Regions from separate parts of the Homo sapiens genome. Here region 2 is linked to region 1. A link means that fine-mapping ties the variant in region 1 to the expression of a gene that starts in the linked region. Tissue or cell type: whole blood. Region 1 holds a variant in brackets; the other region holds the start of a gene. All regions are shown on one strand. Distances are between the middles of the regions.

The links. PIP is the estimated chance that this variant, and not a neighbour inherited with it, causes the effect.
Region 2: it holds the start of COX14, and the variant in region 1 is fine-mapped to the expression of COX14 in whole blood (TOPMed, PIP 0.93).

What each region holds. Positions count from the first base shown.
Region 1 is chr12:50,144,573-50,149,572 of GRCh38, forward strand. The region is part of intron 1 of CERS5 (ceramide synthase 5); the gene reads right to left. The region is part of intron 1 of LOC124902931 (a long non-coding RNA gene); the gene reads left to right. Among named protein-coding and RNA genes, the nearest start is that of CERS5, 20 kb to the right of the region's middle. The variant G/A (reference allele first, on the strand shown) is at 2,007.
Region 2 is chr12:50,109,375-50,114,374 of GRCh38, forward strand. COX14 (cytochrome c oxidase assembly factor COX14) reads left to right here and starts at 2,862. Exons shown (of 2, transcript NM_032901.4): 1 at 2,862-2,927. GPD1 (glycerol-3-phosphate dehydrogenase 1) reads left to right here. Exons shown (of 8, transcript NM_005276.4): 8 at 49-1,939. The coding sequence ends at 145. RefSeq lists enhancers at 2,302-2,351, 2,412-2,671, 2,892-3,131, 3,142-3,191.

The DNA of each region.
Region 1 (5,000 bases):
CTTCCTGCATATAGATATCCTGGATCTTGGATACCTTCCTGCCTAACCAAGAGATTATGGAAATACTTAGATCTTTCAGGAGTCGAGAAGAAAGAAATCAGGAAGCTAGGAAAGGTGAGAAGGAAATCACCTATTAGCACTCTATCGTAGTCTCAGATCTACTAATAAGGCATATAAACTTGGTAAAATCACTTACCTCTTGGGTCTTGGTTTCATCATCTAAAAGAAGAGGTTATATCAAGCAGAGTCCCAAGGATTTAAATTTTTAAAAAGAATAAAAAAGCCGGGCGTGGTGGCTCACGCCTGTAATCCCAGCACTTTGGGAGGCTGAGGCAGGAGGATCACAAGGTCAGGAGTTGGAGACCAGCCTGGTCAACATAGTGAAACCCCGTCTCTACTAAAAATACAAAAAAAAATTATCTGGGCGTGGTGGTGGGCGCCTGTAATCCCAGCTACTTGGGAGGCTGAGGCAGGAGAATTGCTTGAACCCTGGAGGCGGAGGTTGCAGTGAGCCGAGATTGTGCCACTGCACTCCAGCCCAGGCGACAGTGTGAGAATCCGTCTCAAAAAAAAAAAAAAAAAAAAGAAGAAGAATAAAAAATAAAAAGAGGTTATATGAGATGATTTCTAAGATTTTTTTGTATATCTAAGATTCTATGATGTTATCATTGATTGATTATAATTAATTTCCAACTTTTGAATCTTTGAAAATTGAGGAACTATTCCTTGGTTCTTCAAGAAAGATCTCACTCTCCCCCGTAATCAGAGATTTTTAAGAACATCAGCACTAGGAAAACTCTATATTGCCACTTTCAGGATAAGTCAAAACCAGTTTTAGCCCTTAGCATCTTAAGGAGTCCCATAATGAAAATATGACTGGGAGGTGTAAAATGGAGTGCCGTTAACCTATTTTCTTGAGCTGCATTTGAACCTAGAATATATTATCTCTAAAGGAGGGATTGAGAATAAGAAACTTTATCTCCCTCTATGAAAACTTTTTACCTTATCACCAAAGTTCCTGAGCCATAGAGTAATATTTATTCAGAGCATAAATTTAGCCACATCTGTAACACATTCTCTTTTACACCGGTGGGGGGGAAAAAAAAAATAGTTCCATTCAAAGGCCAATGCCAGTGGATACCTTAATTTACATTTACTGGTATACTATTCTGTATACCAATAATATTTAACCCCCAACTCATGTTTAAACTCCTTGTAAACACAAATAGACTGCTTTTATATTTACCAAGGTACTATGCTCAGCAGTTGCTCAGTAACTGACAAGCAACATGTTTTAGTGAAACCCACTCTTGTTGTATTGGAGGTCAATTCTGACCCAAAATTAATCAGCATTCAGAAGAGTAAATGAGGCCGTCATTCTTTGTTGTTGAGTTGATGCCATATCAGAGATAAAAATCATCTAAAAACCCTGTCTCCTCCTTTCTCCTATCGACATAATTGCATGAAAATCCAAAGGCAGAAAACAGCCTTTCCAATTCCTACTCTTACCCCTAACCCAGGCTTCTTTAATCCAGAGGCAGTCAGCTGATTAAAACTCAGATCTGCAGTTAGACAGATTTTACCAGCTGAAAGACCTTGTGACTGTTACATACCCATAGAATGGAGATAATATCTACCTCACAGGGTTATTTTAAAGATAAAATGAAACAATGTATGCCTACACCAATACCTGACACTTAGCAAACATTCATTAAAGAGTAGCTATTATTATTTCACTAGAAACATATTTCAGTCTGGGTACTCTCTGGTACCTCCAGCAGAAAGTGAGAAGCAAGAAATACTCTTTGATATAACAGGTCTATATTCTGCTCACCTCGGTGAAGCCAATTTTAAAATTACTATTATCTGGATCATGGAGTGGACTTAACAATCTAGAATTGTCATTAGCTCACATCCTGCCCTCGTTAGTTCAGAGTTCGGTGAAAAGCATAAAGCTACTCATATCCAGTCAGTTCCAGCTATATGGAGCGTAAGAACATTTGACA[G/A]CCGGGCGCAGTGGCTCACGCTTGTAATCCCAGCACTTTGGGAGGCCGAGGTGGGCGGATCACGAGGTCAGGAGATCGAGACCACGGTGAAACCCCGTCTCTACTAAAAATACAAAAAATTAGCCGGGCGTGGTGGCGGGCGCCTGTAATCCCAGCTACTCGGGAGACTGAGGCGGGAGAATGGCATGAACCCGGGAGGCGGAGCTTGCAGTGAGCCGAGATCGCGCCACTGCACTCCAGCCTGGGCGACAAAGTGAGACTCCGTCTCAAAAAAAAAAAAAAAAAAAGAACATTTGACAAATACTTGTTGATTGTTTATTTTGTGCTACAGAATGAAGCTTTATTATATTTTCCAGATGTGATTGGAAAATAATCTTTTCTAATTTGTGATAAAAATTAAATATATAGATTTAGTTATACACAGTTAATGAATTACCTTACTGAAGAAAGTGAAATTATTTGAAATTATAGCTTTTGAGAAAGTATTAATTCTACATCATACAAAAGGTTGGTATTTGGTATAACTTATAAAACAGGTATCTAGGCCAGGCGCGGTGGCTCATGCCTGTAATCCCAGCACTTTGGGAGGCTGAGGCGGGCGGATCACGAGGTCAGGAGTTCGAGACCAGCCTATCCAACATGGTGAAACCCCATCTCTACTAAAAATACAAAAAGTTAGACAGGCGTGGTGGTGTGTGCCTGTAACCCCAGCTACTCAGGAGGCTGAAGCAGGAGAATTGCTTTTACCCAGGAGGCGGAAATTACAATGAGCTGAGATCACGCCATTGCACTCTCTCTGGCCTGGGTAACAGAGCGAGACTCCATCTCCAAAAAAAAAAAAAAAAAAAATAGGTACCTAGGGTGGTCAATTTCCAGAGCCTGGCATTCATCATTTCTGCTACATCAGCATTTCTCAAAGTGTGGTTTAGAGACCCCTGGGGGATCCAGAGACCCTTTCAGTAGGTCTACAAGGTCAAAACTATCTTCAGAATAATTCTATAATTTCATAAAAATCTATTCTCTCTCATGAGAGTACAGTGGAACTTTCCATAAGTTACATGACATATAACAACAGACTGAATGCAGACGCTGACATGAGACTACAGCTGCCAGATATTTTCAAAAATGTTAAAATGCTACTCTTCTCACAGTTTTTTGTTTTGGAAAATAGTTATTTTTCATAAAACGTAATGAGTTCATTGTTATTTATTTATATTGAGACAGGGTCTCACTCTGCCACCCAGGCTGGAGTGCAGTGGTGTGATCACTGCTCACTGCAGCCTTGACTTCCTAAGCTCAAGTGATCCTCCCACCTCAGCCTCTCAAGTAGCTGGGACTACAGGTGTTGGCCATGCCCAGCTAATTAAAAAATTTTTTTTTTTGTAGAGACAGGGTTTCACCATGTTTCCCAGGCCATTGCTATTTTTAAATGAATAAATATGGGCTGGGCACGGTGGCTAATGCCTGTTATCCTAGCACTTTGGGAGACTGAGACAGGTGGATCACTTGAGCCCAGGAGTTTGAGACCAGCCTGGGAAACGTGGTGAAACCCTGTCTCTCCCCAAAACACAAAAGTTAGACAGGTGTGGTAGCTCATGCCTGTGGTCCCAGCAACTTGGGAGGTTGAGGTGGGAGGATCACTTGAGCCTGGGAGGTCGAGGCTGCAGTGGGCTGTGATTGCGCCACTGCACTTCAGCCTGTGTGATAGAGCCAGATCCTGTCTCAAAAATAAATAGGCTGTATGCGGTGGCTCATGCCTGTAATCCCAGCACTTCGGGAGTCTGAGGTGGGCAGACTGCTTGAGCTCAGGAGTTCAAGACCAGGCTGGCCAACATGGTGAAACCCCATCTCTACCAAAAAATACAAAAATTAGCCAGGCATGGCGGCACATACCTGTAGTCCCAGCTGCTCAGGAGGCTGAGGTGAGAGGATCTCTTGAACTCGGGAGACAGAGGTTGCAGTGAGCTGAGATCTCACCACTGCACTCCAGTCTGGGCGACAAAGCAGACTCTGTCTCAATAATAAATAAATAAATAGGCCGGGCGTGGTGACTCAGACTTGTAATACCGGCACTTTGGGAGGTTGAGGCAGGCTGATCACTTGAGGTCAGGAGTTTGAAACCAGCCTGGCCAACATGGCGAAATGCCATCTTCTACTAAAAATACAACAACAAAAAATTAGCCGGGCATGGTCGTGCACACCTGTATTCCCAACTACTCAGGTGGCTAAGGCAGGAGAATTGCTTGAACCCGGGAAGCGAAGGTTGCAGTGAGCCAAGATTGCGCTACTGCACTCCAGTTGGGGTGACGGAGCGAGACTCCATCTCAAAAAAAAAAAAAAAAAAAAAAAATATATATATATATATATATGTGTGTGTGTGTGTGTGTGTGTGCGTGTAGACATTTTATACATGTATAAATACATGTAGAAAACATGTACATTTTCCCCATTTTTTTTCTAAAACAGTAGACATTGATAGGTACTATCCACATAAACAAAAACTCTTTGGGATCCTTGAAAATTTTTTAAGATTGTAAAGGAGTCCTGAGATCATAGTTTGAAAACTGCTGTGCTAGATGATACTGACAAATTATACTTTTAGTGTGGCTTTCTGTCTTCTCCAGGATCAATCCACATTTTAAAATAATTTGTCAGACAAGATTTTTCCTTTCCTGGCAGATTTTAGTAAGTAGGCATTTAGTGGTCTATAAAAAGAAGCTACTACTTTCCACCTGTAACTCCAGGAACACGAGTCTAGTGACCCATCCTGACAGTATTAGATTTGTCCTGCTTTGTAGAGATCATTTCACTCTGCCCTTTTCCTGCTCTCCAGATACATAGCAGCAGTTGACCTAAGCCTGGGTTAATTAGGATGAAATTACCTAGTGCTTTCGCTTTTTCCTATCAAAGACAGGATGTATATTCACAATGCTACTTTTGTGATTCATTACACCACTGATGAATATGAATTATACACAAATAAAACCAAAGTCT
Region 2 (5,000 bases), 35 kb before region 1:
TGGACCAGGAGTGGGAGGCTAAGCTGAGCCTTTCCCTCTCCAATCTAGGTTTCCCTTGTTCATGGCTGTGTACAAGGTGTGCTACGAGGGCCAGCCAGTGGGTGAATTCATCCACTGCCTGCAGAATCATCCAGAACATATGTGAGTGGGGCCAGGGCCCAGGCCAGGCCGCTTTTTTACCCCAGTGGAGACCAGCAGAAGCCTGGGGTACCTAGTCACCAGGATCTCCAGGACTCCCAGGGAGCAGAGTCTTCTCATCTTTTCACTGGAGGACAGGAGGCTATGGGGCCCAGCTACGCACCTGGAGATCCTGAACTGTCAAGCCACTGGCAGCCTCATGCCACCACATTTGCCAGAAATGCAGTTGCCCTGTCCCTCTCCAGATGTGGGGCTTTCTCCATATCCTCTGGGAGGGGTGGAATCAAGCCCCAGTGCTGCCTGCTTGGTGGCGGGGGTGATGTATGTGGAGAAGGGTTGGGGGAGAGGCCGGTAGGGCAGGGGCTGCTAGTGGCTGTCTCACATACACCAGTAATCCTGTTAAAGGGCTGAAGAAGTATCTTAGCCACAGGAGCGATGAGGCAAGGATTGTCAGGGAGGGGTCTGGGCTTCTGAGCTGATGCAGGCCCCAAGGACCCCTTTGCTGACCTCTGCCAGGACCCACACAGCTTCGATGGATCTCAGTGTTTGTTAACAAAATACAAAGATCTCAAACAAACCCCTTTTAGCTTCTCCTAGCAACATCTGTGTCCTCAGAAACCTCTGGTTCTCCCCCTTCCCCCTCCCCCAGGCTGCCCTGGCACCCAAATTGCTGCCATGCTGGCATCTGTAGCTCGGTGGCTTGACATTCTCCCCAGGGACTTCCCGGTTCCTAGTTCTTTGCCAGCTCCTCCCCACTCTGTGCGACCTTTCCAAGCCTTCCCTCACCCTCCCCGCCAGCACCCTCTTTGGGGAGCAGGAACTTAATCTGCTGACAGAGCTACACCTTTCATAACAGGCTCAGATCACTCAGCTCCCTGTGACCTTTGTATTCACCCAGGCTTCCTTCTCAGTAGCTCTAGCTGGGGGAGGTGTCAGCTGGGCCCCTCCTGTGCTATCTCCCCAGAGGACATCCCTGACTCCACCCCTTTCTTCCTCCCAAACTCTGCACCTCTTCCTCAGCTGCTCCAGACCGGCCAGGGTAACCAGCTAACCATGCCTGGCATCTGGAAGCCAGCAGGCCAGAGGGTGGCCCAAAGGCTGATGAACGGTAGGGAAGGGTGAGCAGATTCCTATGTTGGTGGGCACCAATATTCCAAGGGCAGCTCTCTTTGCTGAATGAGGGCCTTCTCGTGAGGTACTGACAACACCAGCAACTCGAGAGCTGGGAAACTCAAGGAGGAGGAAGAAAATCAAAACCACCCTACTCCCTGGGGTGAGGAAAGAACAGGAGGGGAGGAGGAGGAGTGTGCTCTGCACTTGCCTTGCTCCAGGATGGGGTGGCAGCAGAGGAATGTCACAGGTCAGCAGCCTAGGCCTCCAGCTATAAATAGTCCGGAGGGCCCGAGAGGCTCCCGCCCGTCCAGCAGGGCTGTCAGCTTCCTGTGTGGCAGCACCTGGCACACTGGCTCTGGCCAGCATTATGCTAAAACCCTGTTACTCTCCAATGAACCAGGGAGGCGGGCTCCTCTCTGCGCCTATCCCTTGAGAATTCTGTCTTACCAGTGAAGGGTGGGGCTGCCCAGATCAGGCAGCAGGAGTGAGGGGCACAGTCACCCCAGGCCTTGCTGAGCCCAGGTCTGGGTACTGAGTGTCCAGAGCTGCCTCCCCAGGAGGTTAAGGTGGGGGCAAAGGGGAAGCTTCAAGCACTTTGCCTACTTTTGTTCACTCCCCAGTGCACTGTGACTCAGGCCTTCCCATCAGGCCTATTTGTCTACCCAATAAAGCGTGTTTTTTCCAGAAACAAGAAGAGTTGGGAGAGGGAGCTTCAGTGCATGTGGCAGTGCGTGTGCTGGCGCGTATCATTGCACGTATGTTTTCCCTCTTACCGTAGGAAAAATGAAAAAAGAAATCCCTCCTCCATAATCGCAGCTACTCCAGGGGTCAGCGGCGGTGCCCACTCAGTCCCCATCCCTCTCTCTCCCCTCCCGCCAGCGCCCCCTCCCGCCCTCGCCGCAAGCTGGCCCCGGCCTTGCCGGCCCTTCTTAGGGGCTTTATCATGCCTCCTGCAAGAATAGAGATCACACACGGGACGGAAACGTTAGACTCTCATCCCTTGTGCCCATTCCTTGGTCACGGGCCAAGCTGCCGCATCCTTAGCGGTCCAGGCATCGCGGTGCCCCTCGGGCCCCTACCTGGACTAGGCCCACAGCCGGGCTCTAGGGGGCGCGCGATCCACCTCCAGAAGGCCGGCTGCGAAAATCTACCCAGCTACTGGCGACGTCACCGCACCGTAGGCTGAGGATTGGCTGACTCTGATTTAGCATCCTAAAACTTCCGGTTCCAGAGCTTGGCTCGCCAAAGACCCTCCCTCGAGGGAGAGAAACCACAGCCCCCAGAATTCAGCGGGCCTCTCCGAGAGCACGGCGCGTCTGAGGATGCGTAGTAAGGATAACGGGCCCGGAAGCCGGAAGTTCAAAGCCGGCCTCCAGCCAGAGTGACGGCCTGCGCGGACTCCCGCCTTAGTGGGCGGAGTTGTGCCGCGTCTGATGCGCAGTTCCCTTTATAGCGCGGCAAGCCGAATCCTAGAGGCTAACCCGGCAGGTGGGAGGGAGAAAGTTGCTTTCTGCACCAATAGCTGAGGCGTTCAGGGTTGTCCAGGGACGCTACCCTCACGTGTCTGGTTCCGAGTGCTGCGTTCGGCTGTGCTGGGAAGTTGCGTAGACAGTGGCCTCGAGACCCTGCCTGCCTGAGGAGGCCTCGGTTGGATGCGAAGGAGCTGCAGCATCCAGGTACGCTGCCGGCTAGGGCCGAGCAGGGGCTGCCAGTCCCACTGCCTGCGCGCCCACCTGGGCCAGTCTCCGCTTGCCGCGTCCTCCCATCCCCTAGTCTGCAGGCCTGGTGCCCTTGAATTCACCCGCTTCTGTTGCGTTGCGGACCGCGAGCTGCACTGCTTCCTGCCCAAGCCCAAGCTCCTCGCAGCAGTAGGTCAGTCTTGCTAGAGCTCAGCGCTAATCCTGTCAAACCTCGACTCCTGCCTGGCGTCTCGACCCTCCACGCTCCAACTCTGCCTCTTCCTTGCTCTATAGACCTCTGCGTCCTGATAAGTGGCTCTCCGGGGCACCCTTCGTGCATATCGGCTATCCAGCTCCACCTCTTGACCGCTTTCACTTCCTGGAATGCTCTCACTGCTCCTCTTCTCCAGGCCATCCTTCTAAAAAGACAGTTCCACTCCCACCCCGATTCCCACCCCTACACCTTTCTGCTAAGTTTTCTCAAGCCCCCACCCTGTCTTTGAGCTGTTGTCTCTGAACTCTCACAGTGCCTCTCCATGAGACCATAAGCTCCTGTATGACAGAAGCCATGTTCTTTTTAGCGGCCTCCGTAGCATGATGTACGTTATGTTATGTTATGTTATGTTATGTTATGTTATGTTATTTTGAGACAGGGTCTTGCTTTGTCGCTCAGGCTGCAGGTGTGCGCCACCACGCCCGGGTAATTTTTAAAAAAAGGTTTTTTTTTTGTTGTTGTTGTTGTTGTTTTTAAATAGAGAAAAGGTCTCCCTATGTTGCCCAACCTGGTCTCCAACTCCTGAGCTCAAGCCATCCTCCCGCCTCGGCCTCCCAAAGTGTTGGGATTACCGGCGTGAGCCACCGTACCCGGCCGATGTACTACTCTCTAAGTGCCAAACAAAAAGTAGATAAAAGATGATGGATACCTTAAAAGCCCTGAGTTGACCACTATGCAGTGTATGCATGTAACAAAATCGCACTTCTACCCATACGTTTACGCAATTTTTTTTTTTTTTTTTTGAGACGGAGTCTTGCTCTGTCGCCCAGGCTGGGGTCCCGTGGCGGGATCTCGGCTCACTACAAGCTCCGCCTTCCGGGTTCATGCCATTCTCCTGCCTCAGCCTCCAGAGTAGCTGGGACTACAGGTGCCCGCCACCACGCCCGGCTAATTTTTTGTGTTTTTAGTAGAGATGGGGTTTCACTGTGTTAGCCAGGATGGTCTCGATATCCTGACCTCGTGATCCACCCGCCTCGGCCTCCCAAAGTGCTGGGATTACAGGCGTGAGCCACTGTACCCGGCCGTTATTTTATTTATTTATTTATTTGTTTGTTATTTTATTTATTTTTTTGAGACGGAGTCTCGCCCTGTCGCCCAGGCTGGAGTACAGTGGCGCGATCTCGGCTCACTGCAACCTCCGCCTCCCGGGTTCAAATGATTCTCCTGTCTCAGCCTCCTGAGTAGCTGGGATTACAGGCATGTGCCACCATGCCTGGCTAATTTTTGTATTTTTAGTCAAGACAGGGTTTTATCATATTGGCCAAGATGGTCTCGAACTCCTGACCTCAGGTTATCAGCCCACTTCTGCCTCCCAAAGTACTGAGATTACAGGTGGCTCACGCCCAGCCTTTTTTTTTTCTTTATTATCATTATTATTATTATTTTTAGAGACACAGTCTTGCTCTGCAAGTGCAGGGCCGTGATCACAGCTCACTGCAGCCCCAAACTCGTTGGCTCAGGCAAGCCTCCCACCCAAACCTCCCTAGTAGCTGGGACTGCAGGTGCATGTCACCACACCCAGCTATGGTTCTCAATTTTTATTCTAGCCTAACACACTGGAAAGATACAGTACACCTCCATCAGTGGCAGTGACTTGATTCAGCAGTGGTTTTCAACCAGGAAGGGGGATGTAGTTAAATGAAAAAAAAAAAAAAAAAAACAGGTGTTTCTGGAATTTTTTTTTTTTTGAGGGGTGGAGTTTCACTCGTTGCCCAGGCTGGAGTGCAGTGGCGCGATCTCAGCTCACCACAACCTCCGCCTCCTGGATTCAAGCGATTCTCCTGCCTCAGCCTCCT